Homo sapiens: one gene and its partners. The protein of the gene in region 5 purifies or fractionates together with the protein of the main gene of each other region. This does not show direct contact. Each region holds a gene or a part of one and is shown on either strand. Other genes may lie near its edges. The genes, in order: SNAP23, PGAM4, DFFA, NDRG1, SH2D4A, TF and DTD1.

Region 1 (3,500 bases), on a different chromosome or scaffold from region 5:
GATACTGTCGTTTCTTTTTATACTCCACTCCAATCTGTCAACTCCTTAGTTTGGCATTCAAGTTCCTCTACTACCTACTTATATCTTACTTTCCACTTCTCATCTACATGAGTCACACAGCTCAGTTAAGTCAAGCTCCTTGTTAATCTTTATTTTGAACCTTTCATAGGAAATGCCCTCACTGTTCCTCCCTGTTCATCCAAATCCTTCTTATCACTCAAAGCCCAATCCACATCCTACCTCTTCTATAAGATGCTCTCCAACCCAACCTTTATCAGTTCTGTATACCTAGCCTTGGTCACTATCATATAATCTAACATTAGATTTAGCCTTGCTCACTATCATATAATCTAACATTAGATTTATGTATTTTTTATGTTTTGCCATTCTTTCCCAACTCTTCTACTCTTTTGGCCATCCCTCATGTGCCTACCACAAAATATATATTTTGTTAATACTCCTCCTTTGAAAGGAAAAGAAAATAACTCCATCCTGCTTTCCATCATCCAGATATACATTTCCCTATACTTCCTAACCTTTTCATGTATTACTACAAATTGAAATTGGACTTGATCCCAGGATTGGTCAAATGTAAGTCACAGTTTTCAGTGAACACGCAGTATTTACACAAAAAGCTTAATCTGCCTGAAGGAGAGACAACTTAGATTTATCTAATAGAGTTCCTCATTAAGCCCAGTCATACTTCTGACCTTAGCTGGTGGGAGAAGGTGGGGTACTCTCATTACTTATTTTGAAACCATCTTAATTTATCAACTCACCTATTACATGGGCAGACACAAAGGCCACAGCATTTGTTGAGTTCTGTTAAAGTCTTCTCTGTCTCTCTCATGTCCTTATTTATTTGGTCCAAGCCTTCTTCTATGCGGTTTAGTTGTTCTAAGAATAAGTTGTGAAGTTAACACTTTGTGTTCCATTCACAGTGTCAACCAGAAAATGCTATTATTATGGAACAGCAAACTTCAACCTTGAATCTACCAATAACTCCCCACAGTGAGTATGTCAGTGTCAAAAGGTATTAGAAGCGATTCAACATGATAACAATCTTTCACGTACTGATCCGGAGGCACCTAGCCTCTTGCTGTGGAAAAATTTGTTCTAAAAAGCTTGTATATGGCTGGGTATGGTGGCTCACGCCTGTGATCCCAGCACTTTGGGAGGCCGAGGTGGGCGATGACCTGAGGTCAGGAATTCAAGACCAGCCTGGCCAACATGGTGAAACCCCATCTCTACTAAAAATACAAAAATTAGCTGGGTGTGGTGATGGGTGCCGTAATCCTAGCTACCTGGGAGGCTGAGGCAGGAGAATTGCTTGAACCCGGCAGTTGGAGGTTGCAGTGAGCTGCGATTGCACCACTGAACTCCAGCCTGGATGACAGAGTGGGACTCCCGCTCGAAAAAAAAAAAAAAAAAAAGAATCTTGTATAGTAGGACCAAGGGACGGTTATTTAGAGATCATCCTTACAACCAAGTTAAGGGTACTTTGACGAGGTCAAATCCCCATCATTTCTATAATAGGTTCAAAACCTGAGGGCTATTATAAGAGTAATAAAAACTAGACCTGATTACTCAGGGCCAACTCAACTCAAGTGTTTCCAAGCATACCTGAATCTAGATCTGTTTTAGAACTTGATTTCTGAGGATGATGTAAGAATATCACAATGTCTGGCCAGACACGGTGGCTCACGCCTATAATCCCAGCACTTCGGGAGGCCGACGTGGGCGGATCAAGTGACTCTTGAAGTCAAGAGTTCGACATCAACCTGGCCAACATGGTGAAACCCTATCTCTACTAAAAACACAAAAAATTAGCTGGGTGTGGTGGTGGACACCTGTAATCCCAGCAACTCAGGAGGCTGAGCCAGGAGAATCACTTGAACGTGGGAGGTAGAGGATCCTGGAGTAAGCCACGATTGCACCACTGCACTCGAGCCTGGGTGACAGAGTAAGACTCCGACTCAAAAAATAAAAATTAAAAAAACAAAACAAAACAAAACAAAAGGCCCGGCACGGTGGCTCACACCTGTAATCCCAGCACTTTGGGAGGTCAAGGCGGGTGGATCACCTGAGGTTAGGAGTTCGAGACCAGCCTGGCCAACATGGTAAAACCCCGTCTCTACTAAAAATACAAAAACTTAGCCGGGTGTGGTGGTGGGCACCAGTAATCTCAGCTACTCAGGAAGCTGAGGCAGGAGAATCACTTGAACCCAGGAGGAGGAGGTTGCAGTGAGCCAAGATCACGCCATTGCACTCCAGCCTGGGCAAGAAGAGCGAAACTTCATCCCCCACCCCCAAAACTAGACAAAAATAGCGAAACTCCGTCCCCCACCCCAAAAAAAAAGAAAAACATAGTTGGGTGTGGTGGCAGGTGCCTGTAATCCCAGCTATGTTACTATCATAATGTCTAAGGCACATATAACCAATACACAAAATAAGCCATGCTGGCCTAACACATACTTGGTATATACAATTGGGCATTGTTGCCTGCCATCCCAAATAGACAGTGAACATGATATATAATTCAAATCAGAAGACAAGAAGTAAACATAACATTCTTATTTTACAAAGGGAAGGCTCTCCCAAAGGCTGAAATTTGTATGTGGCTAATTTGATAGGGCTTTTTGGCATCACAGTCAAATTAAGAATTTCTGCTAATAATTTAACTTACCCTTTTGTTCATCCAGCATAGTGATGGTCTTGATTCCTGCATCCTGAGACTAAGACAAGGGGGGAAAAGCTGATAGTACAACAAAACAAACCAAAAACAACAGAAACAAAACCTACAAGAGCAACACAGAATAATTTAGAAACCCAAGCTCTCAGAGGATTAGAGCTACAGACAGAACTAGTATTCTTAAACTAACACACTTTAACATAGCAGCCCCCAAAATAATTAAGTCACAAACTCATAGTGAATTCATCTTCCCTGTCATATTCCAATACTGTTAAAGGGAAAAACAGAAAATTCCCATTAGTGCATGGTTTGACATTTCAGCAACTGTTAATTTCAAATAATAAAGCATATTGATACATTACCCTTTAATACTAATTCCAGCCAGAAGTATTAGGATCGCTCCTATAAATTTCTATACTTAAGTTGATGACTAACATTTTCTTACCTCAATGGCTAAACCCAGGATTCTCCTCGTACTTTCCAGAGACTAGGAAAGAACACAGAATTTTAGCATTCCAAAATATGTAGAAAAAAAAATCTGATCACAGGCCAAATTCATGATGCTATTCTATCTTTAAAAATTGCCAGCTCAGGCCGGGCACAGTGGCTCATGCCTATAATCCCAGCACTTTGGGAGGCCGAGGCAGGAGGATTTCTTGAGTACCGGAGCTCAAGACCAGCCCAGACAACATAGTGAGACTGTTTCCATTAAAGGAAAAAACAAAAAGAATTGCCAGCCTATCCTTCCCTTTAAAACAAAACAATGGCCGGGTGTGGTGGTTCAAGCCTATAATCCCAGCACTTTGGG
Region 2 (3,443 bases), on a different chromosome or scaffold from region 5:
CTGGTGTGAGATGGTATCTCATTGTGGTTTTGATTTGCATTTCTCTGATGATCTGTGATGTTGAGCTTTTTTTCATATGTTTGTTGGCCGCATAAATGTCTTCTTTTGAGAAATGTCTATTCATATCCTTTGCCCACTTTTTGATGGGGTTGTTTTTTTCTTGTAAATTGTTTAAGTTCCTTGTAGATTCTGGATATTAGACCTTTGTCAGATGGGTAGATTGCAAAATGTTTTCTCCCATTCTGTAGGTTAAAAGGCTGAATTTTATAGCATGTGAATTATATCCCAATTTAAAAAAGAATGCATATGTCTTAGTTCAGGCTTCCATAACATAATACCATAGACTGGGTGGTCTAATTGTTCAAAGCTCCACAGAAATTAGTTGGAGAAGTTACAAGAGTCCATTAATCATCTTGCTTTGTTAGTAGCAGCGGGCATGGTTCAGCATTTTCTGCTTAAGTTTCTCTGAGCTCACCAAAACTAAAATGATGTTGTAATACTTTTTTTTTTTAATTGCACATCACTCCTTTATTATACTGATCTGGTAAAAGGATTTAGTACAGTTATGCTCAGATGAACACTGGGCCCATGTGGCAGGGTCAAGCAACTAGAACATGATTCAGAAATCAGTGAAAGACACACTTGGACAGGACCAAGAGGCATTTCACTGCCATGAAACAAGGCAGGAAGGGATTCTAATACACACACCAGGAAGCACTCCTGCCCCTCAGAGGTCAAGGAGCTGATCCTATATTGGTATGAGGAATGGCTTATTTTCTGATGACCACATGTGGGACTATTTCAACCGCCACAAGAAACCCCAGAAGGGTTATTGTTTTGTATTATTAATATATACTATACTTTTTTAATAAAAGTAAATATAACACATAACGAAATTCAGGATTGATCCCAACCTAGAGCCAGATCCTCTGGGGTCAAGGAGGAAACAGTTGTCACATCACCATGCAGATTACATTCATCTTCCACTGGAATGACTAGAGCCCCCAGGCAGTGGCCTGACTGCAGAAGAGCAGAGGACAGACTCTGCTCATGGGGACAGACAGGCTCTGTTGCTTCTCCTCATTGGTCGTGGCTTAGCATGTTCCTCCCCAAAGTCCTTAGTAAACAAAGCACTCACAAAAACCCAAGTCACTACTTTTAAACTCTGTTGGATAAGGGGAGCTTTTCCACAGCTTAGACTGAGAACCTGTGCTCTAGAACTGCTATTCTGACTAGATTGTATGAAGGGAGTGGGTGCAGGCGACAAAATGGCTAAAATGAAAATGGGAGCCACTGGTCCCCATCTGCAGCTACAACTCAAGATGTCTACAGATGTGGTCAGTGTGACATGTGCAGGTGGGAGGGGCAGAGGGACAAGACCAGCAGGGAGGGTGCTCCTGGGGACAGTATCCTCCCCGCTGGCCTTCACTTCTTGGCCTTGCCCTGGGCAGCCACAGCTTCTATGGCTTTGCACACCGTCTCTTCATCCCCCAGAAACTGCATGGGCTTGATAGGCTTCAAGTTCTTGTCCAATTCATAGACGATGGGAATACCAGTCGGCAGGTTCAGCTCCATGATAGCCTCTTCAGAGAGACCCTCCACATGCTTGGCAATGCCCTGGAGGCTGTTGCCATGGGCTGCAATCAGTACACGTTTCCCCTCCTTGATCTGGGGAACTATTTCTTCATTCCAGAAGGGCAGAGCTCTGGCAATAGTATCCTTCGGACTCTCATAGGAGGGTAGCTGATCTTCTGTGAGGTCTGCATACCTGCGATCCTTACTGATGTTGCTGTAGAAAGGATGGTCGGGCTCCATCGGAGGTGGTGGGACATCATAGGAGCGCCTCCAGATCTTCACCTGGGCCTCACCATGCTTTGCAGCAGTTTCTGCTTTATTGAGACCGGTTAGACCCCCATAGTGCCGCTCATTGAGGCGCCAAGTCCTCACCACTGGCAGCCACATCTGATCAATGGCATCTAGCACTGTCCAGAGGGTCCGGATCACTCTCTTCTGCACTGAGGTGAGGCAGATGTCAAACTCATAGCCAGCATCTCGTAGCGCCTGCCCGCCGCGCTTCGCCTCCTCGTGGCCCGCCGGGCTCAGATCGGCGTCGTACCAGCAGCTGAAGCGGTTCTCCAGGTTCCATGTGCTCTCGCCGTGCCGGATCAGCACCAGTTTGTAGGCGGCCATGGCGGTGGGCTGCAATACTTTTTATACCATTTGAAGTAAAAGGTACAAAAGGTTATACGCTGAAAATTCTTTTTCCCACCCTTATTCCCTAACCACTCATTTCCCCTCACCAGAGGAACCACTGTTTCCATGGGATATATTAGATTGATTTATATGAAATTGCCGGTGTTTGACTATGATGATTTCATGTGGTTCAGCCTAATATCAGTGAAAAAACAGAGTCCTATCTTCATGGAGTTTTTATTCTAGTGGGAAGTGTATTACTTAATTATTGCAGTGTAACAAATAACCCCAAAATTTAGTGGCTTAAAGCAACAAACATTTATTATCTCACATTTCCTATGACTCAATAATTTGGGAGCAGCTTAGATGGGTAGTTCTGGCTCAGGGTGTCTCATGAAGTTGTAGTCAATATGGTGTCTGGGGATGTAGTAGTTTAAAGGCTTAACTTAGGTCTGAAGGAGCAGTTTCCAAGGTGGTTCACTTACCTGGCTATTGGCGGGAGGCCTTAGGTCTTTGCTGGTTTTTGACATGAGGCCTCAGTTCCTCACCATATGAACCTCTCCATAAGGCTGCTTGTATGTCTTCATACTTGGTAGGTGGCTTCCCCCAGATTGCGTGATTCAGGAGAGAGGACAACAAGGAAAACACAATGCTTTTTTCTCCTCTTGCAATGTTTTTTATGACCTAGTCTTGGAAGTCACACCTTGTCGCTTCTACCGTAGTCTATTCATTAGAAACAAGTCATTAGGCCAGGTGTGGTGGCTCATGCCTGTAATCCCAGCACTTTGGGAGGGCGAGGCGGGTGGATCACTTGAGGTCAGGTGTTCGAGACCAGCCTAGTCAACATGGTGAAACCTTGTCTCTACTTAAAATACAAAAAATTAGCCGGGTGTGGTGGCATGCGCCCGTAATCTCAGGTACTGGGGAGGCTGATGCAGGAGAATCACTTCAACCCGGGAGGCGGAAGTTGCAGTGAACTGAGATCGTGCCACAGCACTCCAGCCTGCGAGACAGAATTGAGTCTCAAAAACAAAAACAAAAACAAAAACCAAAACAACAACAACAACAAAAAACAAGAAACAAGTCATTAAGTTCAGGCCACACCGAAGGGGAAAGGATTAAATTCCACCTCTTGAAGGAAGGAGTAGCAAAGAATTTGTGGGCGTATTTTAAAACCACCACAGGAAGGCAGACAATAAGCAATAAACAGAATAAATCAGCAAGTTATGGAGTATGTTAGAAGGTGGTAC
Region 3 (3,500 bases), on a different chromosome or scaffold from region 5:
GAAAAGAACACTTAGAACAGAATCAGGCACGTGATGAGTGTTCTGGTAGTGCTAGAAGTGATGATTGTGATTCTAGTTATTACCTACCAGGAGTTCTGCTCAGCTCTGGAGCCATACATACTTGAGATGCAGGGATAGATGTAATTTCCTTACGGTTATTTGTCATTTGCCAAATATTTTATTCTTTTCAGCCTGTGACATTCTGGCCATTGATAAGTCCCTGACACCAGTCACCCTGGTCCTGGCAGAGGATGGCACCATAGTGGATGATGACGATTACTTTCTGTGTCTACCTTCCAATACTAAGTTTGTGGCATTGGCTAGTAATGAGAAATGGGCATACAACAATTCAGGTAAGAAACTCTAGCCATGTATAAAACGGCCTATGCAGTACAGCATCCATCATGATTACTTTCACTGCACAGACAATTGCCATTTGTCTGGCTTTTTAAGCATTTGTTCAACAGATATTTACTGAGCACTTTCTATGTGCCAGACATGGTGCTGAGTCCTGGGGATAAAGATGAATGAGGCCAGGCACGGTGGGCAGATCACCTGAGCTCAGGAGTTTGAGACCAGCCTGGCCAACATGGCGAAAGTCCATCTCTACTGAAAATACAAAAACTAGCTGAGCATGGTGGCAGGCACCTGTAATCCCAGATACTTGGGAGGCTGAGGCGGGAGAATTGCTTGAACCTGGGAGGTGGAGGTTGCAGTGAGCTGAGATTGTGCCACTGCACTCCAGCCTGGGCGACAGAACGAGACTCTGTCTCAAAAAAAAAAAAAAATAGATGAATGAGACATGGGCCCAGTTCTCAACTAACTCATGGACAGACAGCAACTGAAATGCAGCCTGGCAGGGAGCTCAGTGCTGCAGGCTGCAGTCCAGCTGTTGAGGTCTGGATCCTGGCTCTACCATTTACTAACCAGGTGACCTTGTGCAAATTACATAACTTCTCAGTGCCTTGTTGACATAATAATTATAGAACCTGTCCCCTAAGATTGTTGTAAAGATAATATAGTACATATCAAACCAGGGTTTCTCAATGACACTGCTGACATTTGGGGCTGGAGTTGTGAAGAGGATGCTTTGTGTATGATAGGACGTTTAGTAGCATCCTAGATGTTACGAACCTCCCCCCACAACTGTGATAACCAAGAATAAATGACTCCAGATATTGTCAGATGTCTCCTGGGGGGCAAAATTGCTCCCACTTGAGAACCACTGATATGAAGTGTTTAGATCTTACCTGGCACATAGTTAAGGACTCAATAATTGTTACCTGTCCCTGCCATCATCATCATCACAGGAGATAGAAAGGGGACTAACATTGGTGACCAAGGATCAAGAAGTGTCTTGAGAGGGGATTAGTTTTAGGGAGGGACTTAAAAAAAAAAAAAGTGTCCTGAAGTGTGCCACAAAATTGAGGAAGTCATCCTACAGCAGTGGCCCTACCAGCCACCTTTGTGCTCAGGCCTAAGGGACAGCAATCGATGGCTACAGCTCTGCCAGTTAAAGAAGGGACCAATCCCCAAGCACAGAGAAATGCTGGCACAAATGACCGTTTTCGTATAAAAAACAGGACACACCTGGACACACAGAAACCAGAAAGGGAAGTGTGATTGGATTCCTTGTAGGTGTGACCACACATTGGGTTTAAATGGCTTTTTCTATGGAAGAATACAGAGCCGTTGCACACAGAGATAAAGATGAAAGAGGGTCAGGCACGGTGGCTTATGCCTGTAATCCCAGCACTTTGGGAGACCGAGGTGGGCAGATCACTTGAAGTCAGGAGTTTGAGACCAGCCTGGCCAACATGGTGAAAGCCCGTCTCTACTAAAAATACCAAAATTAGCTGGTCATGGTGGTGGGCACCTGTAATCCCAGCTACTTGCAAGGCTGAGGCAGGAGAATCGCTTGAACTCGGGCAGTGGAGGTTGCAGTGAGCCAAGATCGTGCCACTGCACTCCAGCCTGGGCAACAGAGTGAGACTCTGTCTCAAAAAAAAAAAAAATGAAAGAAGAGGGAAAATCAAGGTCCTGGATGGATATTGACCCTCCTGTGAATCCTTGAGATAAGATGCTTCTTTCCCATTGAAATTAATCTAGATCCTCAAGAGGTCTGTGTGTGCTGGGGGAGGAGGTGAAAACAGCACTTCAGGTTGTTCTGTGACTGGCATTTTCTCCCATGTGTCAGATGGAGGTACAGCTTGGATTTCCCAAGAGTCCTTTGATGTAGATGAAACAGACAGCGGGGCAGGGTTGAAGTGGAAGAATGTGGCCAGGCAGCTGAAAGAAGATCTGTCCAGCATCATCCTCCTATCAGAGGAGGACCTCCAGGTAAAGCCTCCTCCACAACCTGCAACAATGTTCATCCAGCCTCTGCCCCCCGCCCCAGCACCTTCTTAGCTTCCATACTTGCCATAGCAATTTCTTTGTTTTAATCTTAATTTTTAAATAATTCTTAAATTACAACTAAGATTTTTCATCTTCTCATTCTCACCTAGAGTAATTTTTCAACCCTCGTCACGAAGCAGAATTACCTGTGGATTTTTTTTTTTTTTTTTTTTTTTTTTTGAGACACAGTCTTACTCTGTCGCCCAGGCTGGAGTGCAGTGGTGCAATCTCAGCTCACTGCAGTCTCCACCTCCCGGGTTCAAGCAATTCTCCTGTCTCAGCGTCCCAGGTAGCTGGAATTACAGGTGCACACCAACACGCCTGGCTAATTTTGGTATTTTTAGTAGAGACAGCGTTTCATCATGTTGGCCAGGCTGCTCCTGAGTTCAAGTGATCCACCTGCCTCAGCCTCCCAAAGTGCTGAGATTATAGGCGTGAGCCACCGTGCCCGGCCAGATTTTTTTTTTAATACAAATGCCTGGGATCCACCCTAAACCTAGTTAGGTGGACGCTGGGGTCAGGGATGCCCTGCTAGAGAATGTAGCGTTGGAGTAGATGGCTTCACATCCCAGCGCTGTCACCACGACTTTGAGCCAGTAGCTTAGCTTCTCTCCTTGTGTTTTCTCTCTAGTAAGATTGGGATAGGCCAGGTGCAGTGGCTCACGCCTGTAATCTCAGCACTTTGGGAGGCCGAGGCGGGCAGATCACGAGGTCAGGAGATCGAGACCATCCTGGCTAACATGGTAAAACCCCATCTCTACTAAAAATACAAAAAATTAGCCGGGCCTGGTGGTGTGCACCTGTACCTGTAGTCCCAGCTACTCGGGATGCTGAGGCAGAAGAATCGCCTGAACCCAGGAGGTGGAGCTTGCAGTGAGCCGAGATCGCACCACTGCACTCCAGCCTGGGTGACAGAGAGAGACTCCATCTCAAAAAGAAAAAAAAGATTGGGATAAAAACAGTATGTTTTCATTCAAAGAAAATTTCTCTTTGAGACAGGGTCTTGCTTTGTCACCCAGTGCAGTGGCATGATCATAGCTCACTGCATCCTCGACTTCCTGGGCTCAAGCCATCCTCCCACCTCAACCTCTCAGGTAGCTGAG
Region 4 (3,500 bases), about 110 Mb from region 5:
AATCTCCAGGTCGCGCCGGCTGCAGGAAACAAATGCATCATTAGCATGAGGACCCCTCCCCTGGAGAAATCTCCCACTCCCATCCAGCCAAGCCCAGGAGGTCCTGCCAGTGGCCATTCTGGTAAGCTACCCACATCCCCAACTTGAGAGAGGCCCTGTGGCTTTCAGGACTCCACACCCTCTTGGTGTCCACAGACCTGGTTAGAGGGACAGCACAACACATGCATTTCAAGCAGAGCCCCCTCATTTTGTCACAAATATTTGTGGGGCTTTTTTTTCCAGGAGTAGAAGTCAGATTCTCCACCATAGAGGGTCCCCGCCTTCCCTGTCCCCCTAGTCAGAGCCCCCACCTGACAGAGGGGCCACCTCCCAAATGCTCTCGCAGCCTCTTAGTTTAAGTCCCAGCCTCACCAACTCTGAGTCCTCTATAAAGCACCCAAATGATCTCTTTAAAACTCAGGCCTCATCTTTCCATTCCCTGTCTCAAACCCTGTGGTGGTTTCCCACTGCACTCGTGTGAGGCCCAGTGTGGGTCCAGCCCAGTGCCGACCACCTTTCCTGCACGCAGCCACCCACCCTCTCTGCTATCTTGCAGCTCCCAACATGAGAAGCTCTTTCCCAGCTCACAGCCTGGAGTTAGACAAGCAGGATCCAAATCATGCTCTGCCACTTTCTAGCTGTGTGGCCTTGGGGAGAACACAGGATCTCTTTGCGCCTTTGCTTCCTCAACAGGAAATGACAGTAATTCCAGGACCTTCACAGTGGGATTTGGAGAGGGGTCAGTTAATTACGGTGCTATCTACACGGGCAAGTTAACAGTGTGGAGTCTGCGGGCTGTGCTGGTTTCCTCTGTGTCTCCAGCGCCCAGCCGAATGCCTGACTCGCTCCAGTTCTCAGAAAGTGTTTACTAAGTGAACCGCACTGCCAGGTTTCGGTTTCTTCAGTCACATCCACAGTGAGGATGTTACCACTGAGATGAGGGCAGGATTGTAAAAGGAGGCAGATACTAAGCTCTGTTACAAATGTTAATTTCAAGAAGTCACTTTATTAACATTTGAGCAGAGATAAACACTATGAGGCTCATTTCTATCTCCTGTTCTGCGAGCGTGGCAGAGCGAGCTCAGCAGGTTGAGCGAGCTCCCTGGAAGATTACAGAGTCTCTGGCTGACACCAATGGCCCTGAGCTGTCTCCTCCCCTAGCTGAGCTCCAGATAAGCACCTAGTGCTGGTTGAGAGGGCCACGCCTTAGGCAAAGGCCATGTTCAGGTCCTCCTTATCCTTGGAATGACAAACTCCCAGAAGCCTGCCTGGATTATCCCCGGCCTCCAGGAGTGCTTTGCTGCTCTCTCACTTAGCTCTTCTTACATTTGGCCTTTCGTGAAGGTCAGCAGCGGGCACACATATTTACTCTCAACCCTCTGAGTGTGCGACTGCGTCCCTCTCACGTCTGCACCCCCAGTGGTCTGGAGTGTTTGTTCAGATCCCTGCAAGGCGAGCTGAATGCCAGGAACCAGCTTACAGGCCAGGTGTCCTTCCTGGGGACACCTGTCCTATTAATCTATTTGCTCAAACTCAGAGCCTGCCTCTTCCGCTCATTTTATACTCTCCCTCTCATCTGTCCCACATTTCGGATCTACAGAAGACACCTCATAAATAGCAATGATGTGGCTGAACTACATCCCAATACCTGTTGTAGGCATTGATGAACAGGTGCAGGTTGCCGGGGTTCATGTCATTCACAATGTGCTGGCGGTAGGTGTGGACCACTTCCACGTTACTCTGCATTTCTTCCTGCATTTAGAGAGGTGAGAAGATGGTCCTCATCGCACTGTGGCCCTGAGCTGGTCACTACTCTCTCCATTCTCCAGGTTATTTGGAGACAAAGTAAAGATAATAATGCCTAATCCACAAGACAGCGACGGACCTAAAAAAAAAACCTTTGGGAAAGCAACACGCCCAACCAGGTGCAGACAGGGGTTTCACTATCCGCTGGGAGCAGAAAAGACCCCCATCCTGGAAAGGCCACACCCCACCCTTCCAAACTCATTACTTTGGGAGTTTCAATTTGAAGTCAGACATCCTGGATCTAGAGCTTAGCTTCATCACTGTCCCTTTCGTAGGCAAATCTTTCAACCTCTCTGAGCCTCAGATCTCTTAAAAAAAAAAAAAAAAAAAAGGGAAGAGAGAGAATGTTGCCTACTTCACTAGGTTGTAGGACTTAATGGAGGTTGTGTTCTCACCTCTACTAACAGTAAAAATTGGAGGCAAATGTTAGTAATTGTTTTCCAATGGGAAGAGCTGAAAAGAAGTTTTTCATGCTTGAAAAGCAAAATCAACTCATGCCACAGGAAGTTACTGAAAAGAAGGGCAATTGCAACTCCCACCACGGCCAACCAGAGCCTTGGGGAAGTCGGCCTCAGCCTCCCCGTCTCTGGGTGCTTTTTGAATGTTATTTGCGACAAACAACTTGTTTGCTCTGTTTCTCATTTGTACGAGGGCAGACACTGTAGGTTTCACACAAGGGTCTGATATGACCAGTGGCAACCAGATGAGAAGTTGGAGTTGGGGGTCAAAGAAAGCCGGTGTCAAGCTTGAGCTGCATCAAACAGTCCAGGATCATTTAGGCAGCAAGGAGGTCAACTGGCTACTAAGAGCAAACTCTGGAAAAAATAGTCAGGAATCACGCTGGGATTTCAGATCAAAACCAACTATAGCGATCTGGGGGTACCCTCAGACACCATGGCCGGACCAACCAGTCTCCAAATAACTTGGGGTATAATCAGATCAGATGCTCAACGCTATGTCTGACATCCCTCCTCCAGTGAAACAGAGACAGTGGCTGTGAATTTTTCCCAATTCCTATCAGTTTCAGATTACACACTCAGGACAGGGAAAATGTGTCACACGCTGTGGAATGAATCGTAAAAGGGGAAAGAGGACTCTAGTGGGCTAAACTGTGGCCCTCAAAAGATATGTCCATGTCAAATCTCTTGAACTTGGGAATGCAAACTTGCTGGGAAAAAGGGTTTTTGCAGGTGTAATTAATTAAGGATCTTGAGATGAGATAATCCTGGATTACATGAGCCGGGATGAAATCCAATGGAAAGTATCCTTAAAAGAGGAAGGAGAGGGAGAAATAAAACAGACACAGAGGAGAAGACCATGTGAAGACAGAGGCAGAGAGTGGTGTGAGCAGCCACTAGCCAAGGAATGCCGACAGCGACCTGGAGCAGTAAGAAGCAAGGACGAATTTCCCCTGGAGCCTGTGGCGGAGGGGCGGCCCTGCCAGCGCTTGACATCGGAGTTCTAGACTCAGAGCTGTGAGAGAATACACTTTTGTTTTCCTTTTTCTCTGTTTTTGAGACAGAGTCTCCCTCTGTCTCACCCAGGCTGCAGTGCATGGCGCGATCTCGGCTCACTGCAGCCTCTGCCTCCCAGGTTCAAGTGATTCTCCTGTCTCAGCCTCCCGAGTAGCTGGGATTACAGGCGCGTGCCACCAC
Region 5 (3,500 bases):
AAATCAAAAGGAGGCCGGGTGCCCTGGCTCACACCTGTAATCCCAGCCCTTCGGAAGGCCGAGGCAGGTGGATCACCTAAGGTCAGGAATTTGAGACCAGCCTAGCCAACATGGTGAAACCCCATCTCTACTAATAATACAAAAATTAGCTGGGTGTGCTGGCGCACACCTGTAACTCCAACTACTTGGGAGGCTGAGAAAGGAGAATCGCTAGAATTTAGGAGGCAGAGGTTGCAGTGAGCTGAGATCATGCCTCTGTACTCCAACCTGGGAGACAGAGCAAGAGACTCTGTCTCAAAAAAAAAAAAAAATCAAAAGGAACAGGTGAAATTAAGTATTTTACTTTACCCAAGATATACAAAATATCATCAGTTCCATATATAAGGAATATACAATTATTAATGTGGCATTATCTTTTCCTTCTACCAAGTCTTTGAAATCCGGTAGTTTACATGTATAGCACACCTCAATCCAGACTAGCCTCATTTCCTGTGCTCAAGAGCCACATGTGGCTTGTGGTGACTGCACTGGACGGTGCGGCTGTAGACCTCTAGCTACCCCAGCAAGCAGAGTAGATCCATACGTCTCTCCCTAAGTATCACATTCTCCCACTACAGAAATCAGAAATGATCTTCTCATATAGTACTAAGTTAAATTCACATGCTGATAGTTTTTCAGCCCCTTCTACTTCAGCCTTCAGATTACTAACAAGTAGACAAGTCGGGCACGGTGGGTCATGCGTGTAATCCCAGCACTTTGGGAGGCGGAGGTGGGTGGATCACTTGAGGTCAGGAGTTCAAGACCAGGCTGGCCAACATGGTGAAACCCTGTCTCTACTGAAAATACAAAAATTAGCTGGGCATGGTAGCAGGTGCTTATAATCCCAGCTAGTCACTCAGGAGGCTGAGGCAGGAGAATCGCTTGAACCTGGGAGGCAGAGGTTGCAGTGAGTTGAAATGTCACACCACTGCACTGCAGCTAGGGAGACAGAGGTTGCAGTGAGTTGAAATCTCACACCACTGCACTGCAGCTTGGGAGACAGAGCAAGACTCTGTCTTTAAAAAAAAAAAAAAAAAAAAAGAATAATAGACAAGTTTCTGTGATGCACAATACACAACAATTTTAGTGATGATCCCCAAACACTAAGCACAGGGGTCTGTGTATTCGTAGTGAAAAATGACCAGATGACAATGAAGGAACTTCTAAGTGATAAGCTAGAGGGGGTCAAGGAATGGCAGGGGTGGCCTATGATGTTTTTAATGAAATGAACAACCTTCAAAACCACCGTGTGGCTAAGAACTGCTAAGAAAAAGCAGCACTTAGCTCAGTACTAACCAGAAAGGCGGGAGAAGGGGAGGCAGGGAGCACAAGCCTTCAGGGATCAGATGCACGAGTGACCTGTCAACCCACAAGGGTCATGGGCTTAGCAGGTCTGCAGCACAGATAAGCACCTCTGGCAGCACCAGCCATGACAGCATTGCTTTGGACGGTCTATGGCTTTATCTTCAAAGACAGCGCAAGATGAAAGAGAAGTGATGGGATTTTAGGGGAAGTGGGAGTAACTTTTTCCCTTTCTGTAGTCAGAAGAGGAACTAATTTAATGCAAAATATATTTTTCCAAGTTTTCAATTTAAGGGAGTAATACACTTTTGACGTGAGATATTGATAGAACTTTCCCCACTTATATTAACATACTTTTCTCATGATCATTTGACTAACAAAGTTAACACAGGGTTTCTGAGAGGTAGATTCAAAACCCTACAAGCGAGAAATGTAAGCAAAGAAACTGAAATTATTATTTTAAGTCATCACAAGGAGACCAATTCAGCAAACACGAGAAACCCAAAGTCTAACAGAGTCTGGGCCATTGACTCTAGTGGCAAGAACCCTTTGGCTGCTAGTCCCCAAGGTCACCCCATCACACTAATATATGTTATGTTCACAGTGAACATGGTGCCCAGAAGAGACCCAATTATATCTGAAAAACTCTGACTGGGGAATCCAAGAAGGTGCATAAACCAGTTTAGAAAGAAAAAGAGTTATGTTTCAGTTTGGCCATGTTATTTGTTGGAGGAAAAGTTGTATTTTGGATAGTGCAGAATAATGTAAAATCCAACAGAACTGGGCATCTATTGGTGGTATAACCTTGCATATATTACTCAACTTATCTAAGTTTCATGGCCAGCTTCAGTGGCTCAGGCCTGTAATCCCAGCACTTTGGGAGGCCCAGGTGGGCAGATCGTTTGAGGTCTGGGGTTCAAGACCAGCCTGGCCAACATGGAGAAACCCCACCTCTACTAAAAATTCAAAAATTAGCTGGGTGTGGTGGCACATGCCTGTAATCCCAGCTACTTGGGAGGCTGAGGCAGGAGAATTGCTTGAACCCGGGAGACGAAGGTTGCATTGAGCCAAGATTGTACCACTGCACTCCAACCAGGGCGACAGAGTGAGACTCCATCTCAAACAAACAAACAAGCAAAAAAAAAAATGAACTTCTCTAAGTCTCATCATCTGTAAAACAGGACTGTCACTGCTGACTTTGCAGAAGTTTTGTGAAGGTTAGGCATTATATGCATAAATGTGCTTCACATAGTGTCTGAAACAGGAGGTGTTTCATAAATAGTTGTATTGATCATAACAAGAGGAAATGACATATTTCTGTTTATTTCCTTGTCATGATAAAGGCATCACTGGAAAAAAGTTTTAATAAAAGACAGTAAAAAGTAAAGGACGCTACACTGACCTCCTTTGTGAACCTGGGCATATACCAGGGATGCAAGAGAGATTCATTTTCTCAATCTTTGAAACCATATGTGATTTTACAAAATTTTATTTTCCTGGTTTAATGAAACATGAAAAGAGACGGTCTTAGATGCCTCTGCAAGTGACCTTGAAAAGTGTGCTGTGTTTTCACAACTTTGGTATTCACCCATGACAGACTTCGCATGTAAACAGCAAGGCGGGGGTGTGGGGGTTAGTGAGAACGGAGTGAGGAGGGTGGACAATGTGTATTTTTCTGTGTCTGTATGTGTATATGCTTTAAGTCTTTTTTTTTTTTTTTTTTTTTTTGACACACAGTCTCACTCTGTCACCCAGGGTGGAGTGCAGAGGTGTGATTTCAGTTCAGTGTGGCCTCGATCTCCTGAGCTCAAGCAATTACACCACCTCAGCCTCCCAAGTAGTTGGGACTATAGGCATGTACCACCATGCCCAGCTAATTTTTTATTTTTCCTAAAGAAAAGGTCTCACTATATTTCCAGGCTGGTCAGAACTCCTGGACTCAAGTGATCCTCCTACCTCGGCCACCCAAAGTGCTGCAATGACAGGCATGAGCCACTGCACCTTGTCTGCTTTAAGTCTTAATGTACAAAGATTTCCTCCCCCATGGTCTCAAAAGAACCCTCTCAAACTACCAGAGATTCCTTTGATAACGAGGAAAAGTTTACATCTGAGAAACTCATTCACACTAAAAAAAGATAGTATTATGATTTTTTTCCTTA
Region 6 (3,500 bases), on a different chromosome or scaffold from region 5:
AGTTACAGTTGCTGTTTTCAGATGGCTGTCCTGAATCTATAAGGTAGCCCCCTGAATGACAGATAAGTCACTCTGACCGCCTTTTTTTTTCTCTCCCACTTCTGGACCTCTGCAGGTGTCTGGTTGAGAAGGGAGATGTGGCCTTTGTGAAACACCAGACTGTCCCACAGAACACTGGGGGTAAGTGCACCTGCTCCTCTGTCCCCCTAGATCACTAGATCCTGGTCACTGGTATTCACTTGTATTCAGGGATGCCTTTGTGGAAGTATTATGTACACTGTCAGACTTCAAAGCTCTGATTCTCAGTCTGTCTGCTCAGTGAAGAGAGACATGTTCACCTGAGTGCGCAGAATGATCAGGATTATGGGGCCCCCAATGGCCCTAAATCCTCCCCAACACACACTCCCACAGCTGCAAGCCTTGTGCTCCTTTCCCCTAAATACTTCAGTGCCTATTTCCTAAGAATAAGACAATCTCTTGCATACCCACAGTATGATTACCAAGATCAGGATCTTTTACATTATGTGGATTTAATACTCGTCACGTCCACAGTCCACATTTAACTGTTGTCAGTTATCCCAGTAATGCCTTTTATAGCTATTTACTGTACTTCTGGGTTGTGTCCATTGAGAAGGCCTAGAGGCAATGGCATACCAGCAGGAGTAAGCACCAAGATATTGGCTTGTAAGTACTCTTCTTTACTAAAAGGAACCAGAACTCCTTGGAAAAATAGCTGACTTCAGGGCTGGGGCAGGAAAAATAGATGCTGAGCCTAGAACAACACACTGAAGTGCTCAAACAGTGATGGGACACTCAAAGCATACAAGAACCAATTTGAAGGATCTCCTGTTGCCAAGTCTGGGAATTTTGAGCATTAAAATAAATAATGATAGCAGTAAGGGATAATAGCCCATTGAAAGAAATAAGAATGCATGAGGCAATACTGATTAAACAAATGAAGAAGGGAAAACTAATCAATGTGGAAGGAATGATAGAGTTAGAAAACTATCACTTGGCAACCAATATATTGATAACTGATTCAAGCAAGAATCAATGGGTGTTAAGCCGGGCGCAGTGGCTCACGCCTGTAATCCCAGAACTTTGGGAGGCCGAGGCGGGTGGATCATGAGGTCAGGAGATCGAGACCATCCTGGCCAACAAGGTGAAACCCCGTCTCTACTAAAAATACAAAAAATTAGCCGGGCGCGGTGGTGGGCGCCTGTAGTCCCAGCTACTCGGGAGGCTGAGGCAGGAGAATGGCGTGAACCTGGGAAGCGGAGCTTGCAGTGAGCCGAGATTGCGCCACTGCAGTCCGCAGTCCGGCCTGGGCGACAGAGCGAGACTCCGTCTCAAAAAAAAAAAAAAAAAAAAAAAGAATCAATGGGTGTTAACTTGTGGGTGAACGTTGGACAGCCATAATATTAATAAAAACAAACAAAACAAAGCAAAACAAACATTGGCCAGACTGAGCACTCCACACCTGACCCCTCAGTATCACTAAGTGCTAGCAGAGCCCACTGGAATTCAAGCTGTGAATACTTCCCTGCCTTCTCTCATGTTCATTCCCCAACTCCTCACTTTTCCTGGGCAACTCATCCAGAATGAACCGGCTCAGCACCAGCCCCTCCAGGAAGCCTTCCCAGATGGCATACCCTGTCCTACAAGAAGACTCCTCTGTTCATATTGCCATTATGATTGAATTCACCACACTCTGTAATACACTTTGGCTACAGAAACTCTTTGAGCTCTTTTTCTTCATCTTATATTCCCAGAACCTAGTGTAGCACATAGTACACAGCAGTTGCTAAGAATTTGTTTGCAGAAATATTGGGTTGACTAATTTTCCTTTCTTCCCTCGTATTATTGCTTTTTCCTTTAAGAGAGTGTTACCCTAAGCTTGGCTCTTTGCCACCCTTGATTTCTTTTGGTACTTTTCTGAGTAGAGCTCCCTTCTTTAAGCTTTGACTCTCTTACTCTTTGCAATGACTCAAAAATTCTTCCCTCCTGCATAGAATTAAGATAGGAGGCCTGACATCCAATCTCAATTCCATTCCAGTCTATTTCCCAAGGTGTCACTTTTATGTAGAGAGTACATTGGCATTGCAATTGTATTTTTTTACGTGTGTATATGGATGTCCTCATATATTGTAGTTGTATATATACAATCCATATACAACTCAACTGTCCTCATCTTTCTGTCAACGTTCCCTCCTCTTCTCCCAGCCTCTATCCTTATAGAGAATCCTGCTATACTCCCTGCCCATCAGGCCTAGATTAAGTCTGTCAGTCAATATCTTATTTCTTCAAAACGTGTCTTTTTTCAAACTAAATTTTGAAATAATTGTGTGTATTTAAGGTAGACAACATGATTTTTAAGAGCCAAAGTAATTTTGATGTATTGTAAGTTTGGGAACTACTGGTCTAATACCCCTGACTTAATATCACATTCCTGATAAATATTACTAAATGTAAGTCACATCATGTCTGATTCATCATACTTATATTTTGCACCTTCTTACCTTCTTCTGTTATTAATTTGTTGCTTTTTCAACTTATATTTTAGATTGAGGGTACATATGCAGGTTTGTTACATGGTATACTGCATGATGCTGAGGTTTGCGGTATGATTGAACCTGTCACCCAGGTAGTGAGCATAGCACACAACAGGTAGCTTTTCAACTCTTGCCCCCCTCTCTCCCTCCTCCAAAATCTGTCTTAAGTGCTATGGTATATACAAGAAGGAAGACACAAAACCACGTGGGCTTTTTTTTTTTCTTTTTTTTCTTTTTGAGATGGAGTCTCACTTTGTTGCTAGGCTGGAGTGCAGTGATGTGATCTCAGCTCACTGCAAACTCCGCCTCCCAGATTTAAGTGATTCTCCTGCCTCAGCCTCCCAAGTAGCTGGGACTACAGGCGTGCACCACCACGACCAGCTAATTTTTGTATTTTTAGTAGAGACGGGGTTTCACCATGTTGGCCAGGATGGTCTCCATCTCTTGGCCTCATGATCCGCCCACCTCGGCCTCTCAAAAGTGCTGGGATTACAGGTGTGACCCACCGCGCTCAGCCCACATGGGCTCTTTTATCACAATTTGTGTGTGTGTGTGTGTGTGTGTGTGTGTGTATGTGCATATTATAGGTGTGTGTAGGAAAAAGAATGTTAGAAATGTACCAATTTTGAAGGCGTAGACTATGAAATTACAAATGCTTCAAAATTTTCTTCCCAATACTTACGTGGCATTTTATAAATTTCCACCAATAAACGTGTATTATTTTTATTGAAAAAGCATATTTTTAACATGCCCTTCTAGATGCCCTCCTAGCCAGACTGAATCACCTCCCATTTGATTTTTCTTAATTTTCTACCTTTAGGTTCTGGCTCATTCATTAACATCAATTTCCATTCATAAGTCCTCACAAACCCACTTTTCCTCTTGCCTGAGTGCCTCACATACCCTACTGCCTGAGATGGTTCCAGAGGCGGTCTCCTCTCTCCCTTA
Region 7 (3,500 bases), on a different chromosome or scaffold from region 5:
CAACCCCTGCCTTTTTTTGTTTTTTCATTTGCTTGGTAGATCTTCCTCCATCCTTTTATTTTGAGCATATGTGTGTCTCTGCACGTGAGATGGGTTTCCTGAATACAGCACACTGATGGGTCTTGACTCTTTATCCGATTTGCCAGTCTGTGTCTTTGAATTGGAGCATTTAGCCCATTCACATTTAACGTTAATATTGTTATGTGTGAATTTGATCCTGTCATTATGATGTTAGCTGGTTATTTTGCTCGTTAGTTGATGCAGTTTCTTCCTAGCCTCGATGGTCTTTACAATTTGGCATGTTTTTGCAGTGGCTGGTACCTTTGTTCCTTTCCATGTTTAGTGCTTCCTTCAGGAGCTCTTTTAGGGCAGGCCTGGTGGTGACCAATCTCTCAGCATTTGCTTGTCTGTAAAGTATTTTATTTCTCCTTCACTTAGGAAGCTTAGTTTGGCTGGATATGAAATTCTGAGTTGAAAATTCTTTTCTTTAAGAATGTTGAATATTGGCCCCCACTCTCTTCTAGCTTGTAGAGTTTCTGCCGAGAGATCCGCTGTTAGTCTGATGGGCTTCCCTTTGTGGGTAACCCAACCTTTCTCTCTGGCTGCCCTTAACATTTTTTCCTTCATTTCAACTTTGGTGAATCTGACAATTATGCGTCTTGGAGTTGCTCTTCTCGAGCAGTATCTTTGTGGCGTTCTCTGTATTTCCTGAATGTGAATGTTGGCCTGCCTTGCTAGATTGGGGAAGTTCTCCTGGATAATATCCTGCAGCATGTTTTCCAACTTGGTTCCATTCTCCCCGTCACTTTCAGGTACACCAATCAGATGTAGATTTGGTCTTTTCACATAGTCCCATATTTCTTGGAGGTTTTGTTCGTTTCTTTTTATTCTTTTTTCTCTAAACTTCTCTTCTCGCTTCATTTCATTCATTTGATCTTCCATCACTGATACCCTTTCTTCCAGTTGATCGAATTGGCTATTGAGGCTTATGCGTTCGTCACATAGTTCTCGTGTCGTGGTTTTCAGCTCCATCAGGTCCTTTAAGGACTTCTCTGCATTGGTTATTCTAGTTAGCCATTCGTCTAATCTTTTTTCAAGGTTTTTATCTTCTTTGCCATGGGTTCGAACTTCCTCCTTTAGCTCGGAGTGGTTTGATCATCTGAAGCCTTCTTCTCTCAACTCGTCAAAGTCATTCTCTGTCCAGCTTTGTTCCATTGCTGGTGAGGAGCTGCATTCTTTTGGAGGAGGAGAGGTGCTCTGATTTTTAGAATTTTAAGTTTTTCTACTCTGTGTTTTCCTCATCTTTATGGTTTTATCTACCTTTGGTCTTTGATGATGGTGACGTACAGATAGGGTTTTGGTGTGGATGTCCTTTCTGTTTGTTTGTTTTCCTTCTAATAGTCAGGACCCTCAGCTGCAGGTCTGTTGGAGTTTGCTGGAGGTCCACTCCAGACCCTGTTTGCCTGGCTATCAGCAGTGGAGGCTGCAGAACAGTGGATATTGGTGAACAGCAAATGTTGCTGCCTGATCGTTCCTCTGGAAGTTTTGTCTCAGAGGAGTACCCGGCCGTGTGAGGTGTTAGTCTGCCCCTACAGTGCGGTGCCTCCCAGTTAGGCTACTCAGGGGTCAGGGACCCACTTGAGGAGGCAGTCTGTCTGTTCTCAGATCTCAAGCTGCATGCTGGGAGAACCACTACTCTCTTCAAAGCTGTCAGACAGGGACATTTAAGTCTGCAGAGGTTTCTGCTGCCTTTTGTTTGTCTGTGCCCTGTCCCCAGAGGTGGAGTCTACAGAGGCAGGCAGGCCTCCTTGAGCTGCGGTGGGCTCCACCCAGTTCGAGCTTCCCGGCCGCTTTGTTTGCCTACTCAAGCCTCGGCAATGGTGGGCGCCCCTCCCCCAGCCTTGCTGCCACCTTGCAATTTGATCTCAGACTGCTGTGCTAGCAATGAGCGAGGCTCTGTGGGCGTAGGACCCTCAGAGCCATGCGCGGGATATAATCTCCTGGTGTGCCGTTTGCTAAGACCATTGCAAAAGCGCATTATTAGGGTGGGAGTGACCCGATTTTCCAGGTGCTGTCTATCACCCCTTTCCTTGGCTAGGAAAGGGAATTCCCTGGCCCCTTGCGCTTCCCGGGCGAGGCGATGCCTCGCCCTGCTCGGTGTGCTGCAGCTACTGTCCTGCATCCACTGTCCAGCAATCCCCAGTGAGATGAACCCTGTACCTGAGTTGGAAATGCAGAAATCATTCGTCTTCTGCGTGGCTCACACTGGGAGGTGTAGACTGGAGCTGTTCCTATTTGGCCATCTTGGCTCCACCTCTGATAATTATTATTAACATAATGCTTTGGAATACTTTTTCTAAACAGGTAATTCTACATCTGTTTCTCTAACTTTACAAAGTTGGAGACATACTGTATATATATAGTGTCACCTGTTTTTTATCTTTTAACAGAATATCTTTAACATTTCTCTAGGTCATTCTTTTACTGTGAGCTTTATAATTTCCATCTGCACATCAAATATTTGAAGACTAAATTATCCCAATGCATTAAAAATGTAGAATATTGTAGAATATTTAATTGAAGTAAATGTAAAAGAAAAATACGTTCAACCAGGATTCCAAAGCTCATCTTAAGTTCAAAAACAAAGATTTTAATCTGTGCCAAGAAGATGGAGTTTCTCAAAGGTCAATGTGGGGAACAATTACAGTATTTCAGTTATTGGTATTGAAGGTAGGGAAACAAGTATGAATAGTCCCCAGGTCCGTAACTTGGGTTAACATCATCCACACAATGTAAGAACAAATGGGTTGTTTCTAATAGCTAAAAACTGAAAGTAATATGGTCCCCAGGAATGATGTTGTCTGTTCTCCACCCACTGGTTGTCTTTTAGAAAACTCTTAGGAAGGTGTGCAGGACTCTTACAGGTGGGTTTGGGTGTACGAGGGTAGCCCTTGGGGATATGGTGGCAGACAGAGCTGCAGAGCATGGGCTAGCTGTGGTTCCAGCTTGCCTTTCTCATGTGTGCACAGGGACTTCGCTATCCAGCTGGGCAGGGGAATGAGGGCTGTTAGTCTATGGAAGCATCTGCTTGTGATACAACCCTTTCTTAAGAAGGTGGCCTGCACTGAGTGTATCAGGAAGCACATCCATGGAGGTGGCACTGCCATGGCATATTGAGTCGTATTGAAATCTTTTGCTTTTACTGAAGTCCATCCAATTAGAATCTAGATCTGAGGGAATAGAAACTCTTCTGTTAGGCTTTAGCTTTAGTTTAACTTTTGGATGACAAATGCATGCATCATAGATCTCGGCAATACTAGCTGGTTTTTGTTATAGCCTCGGAATTACAAAAGGAAACCCTGAGACACTTGGACTTCTGTACCAAACAGCCAGGCATCCTTTGAGTAGTATTTAAAATGTCGCAAGACTAAGCATTTAGTTTATTCCCTCCCTGTCCCTGCATTTCCTTAAGCTCCCATCCCTCTACCTCCCTCATTGTT

The links.
Region 1: the proteins of SH2D4A (region 5) and SNAP23 purify together in Homo sapiens (co-immunoprecipitation; one large-scale study listed by IntAct). This does not show direct contact.
Region 2: the proteins of SH2D4A (region 5) and PGAM4 purify together in Homo sapiens (affinity purification with mass spectrometry; one large-scale study listed by BioGRID and IntAct). This does not show direct contact.
Region 3: the proteins of SH2D4A (region 5) and DFFA purify together in Homo sapiens (co-immunoprecipitation; one large-scale study listed by IntAct). This does not show direct contact.
Region 4: the proteins of SH2D4A (region 5) and NDRG1 fractionate together in Homo sapiens (co-fractionation; one large-scale study listed by BioGRID). This does not show direct contact.
Region 6: the proteins of SH2D4A (region 5) and TF purify together in Homo sapiens (affinity purification with mass spectrometry; 3 studies listed by BioGRID and IntAct, with this or other methods). This does not show direct contact.
Region 7: the proteins of SH2D4A (region 5) and DTD1 fractionate together in Homo sapiens (co-fractionation; one large-scale study listed by BioGRID). This does not show direct contact.

What each region holds. Positions count from the first base shown.
Region 1 is NC_000015.10:42,512,634-42,516,133, reverse strand, and holds part of SNAP23 (synaptosomal-associated protein 23), read right to left. Parts: intron 3,180-3,500; coding exon 3,138-3,179; intron 2,736-3,137; coding exon 2,687-2,735; intron 898-2,686; coding exon 780-897; intron 1-779. UniProt on the Homo sapiens protein: Essential component of the high affinity receptor for the general membrane fusion machinery and an important regulator of transport vesicle docking and fusion.
Region 2 is NC_000023.11:77,967,449-77,970,891, forward strand, and holds PGAM4 (phosphoglycerate mutase 4), read right to left. Parts: upstream 2,191-3,443; coding exon 1,426-2,190; 3' UTR 501-1,425; downstream 1-500.
Region 3 is NC_000001.11:10,466,030-10,469,529, reverse strand, and holds part of DFFA (DNA fragmentation factor subunit alpha), read left to right. Parts: intron 1-191; coding exon 192-353; intron 354-2,197; coding exon 2,198-2,340; intron 2,341-3,500. UniProt on the Homo sapiens protein: Inhibitor of the caspase-activated DNase (DFF40).
Region 4 is NC_000008.11:133,248,753-133,252,252, forward strand, and holds part of NDRG1 (protein NDRG1), read right to left. Parts: intron 1,792-3,500; coding exon 1,688-1,791; intron 20-1,687; coding exon 1-19. UniProt on the Homo sapiens protein: Stress-responsive protein involved in hormone responses, cell growth, and differentiation. Acts as a tumor suppressor in many cell types. Necessary but not sufficient for p53/TP53-mediated caspase activation and apoptosis.
Region 5 is NC_000008.11:19,320,193-19,323,692, reverse strand, and holds part of SH2D4A (SH2 domain-containing protein 4A), read right to left. Parts: intron 1-3,500. UniProt on the Homo sapiens protein: Inhibits estrogen-induced cell proliferation by competing with PLCG for binding to ESR1, blocking the effect of estrogen on PLCG and repressing estrogen-induced proliferation. May play a role in T-cell development and function.
Region 6 is NC_000003.12:133,770,393-133,773,892, forward strand, and holds part of TF (serotransferrin isoform 1 precursor), read left to right. Parts: intron 1-115; coding exon 116-180; intron 181-3,500. UniProt on the Homo sapiens protein: Transferrins are iron binding transport proteins which can bind two Fe(3+) ions in association with the binding of an anion, usually bicarbonate.
Region 7 is NC_000020.11:18,759,054-18,762,553, forward strand, and holds part of DTD1 (D-aminoacyl-tRNA deacylase 1), read left to right. Parts: intron 1-3,500. UniProt on the Homo sapiens protein: Possible ATPase involved in DNA replication, may facilitate loading of CDC45 onto pre-replication complexes. An aminoacyl-tRNA editing enzyme that deacylates mischarged D-aminoacyl-tRNAs.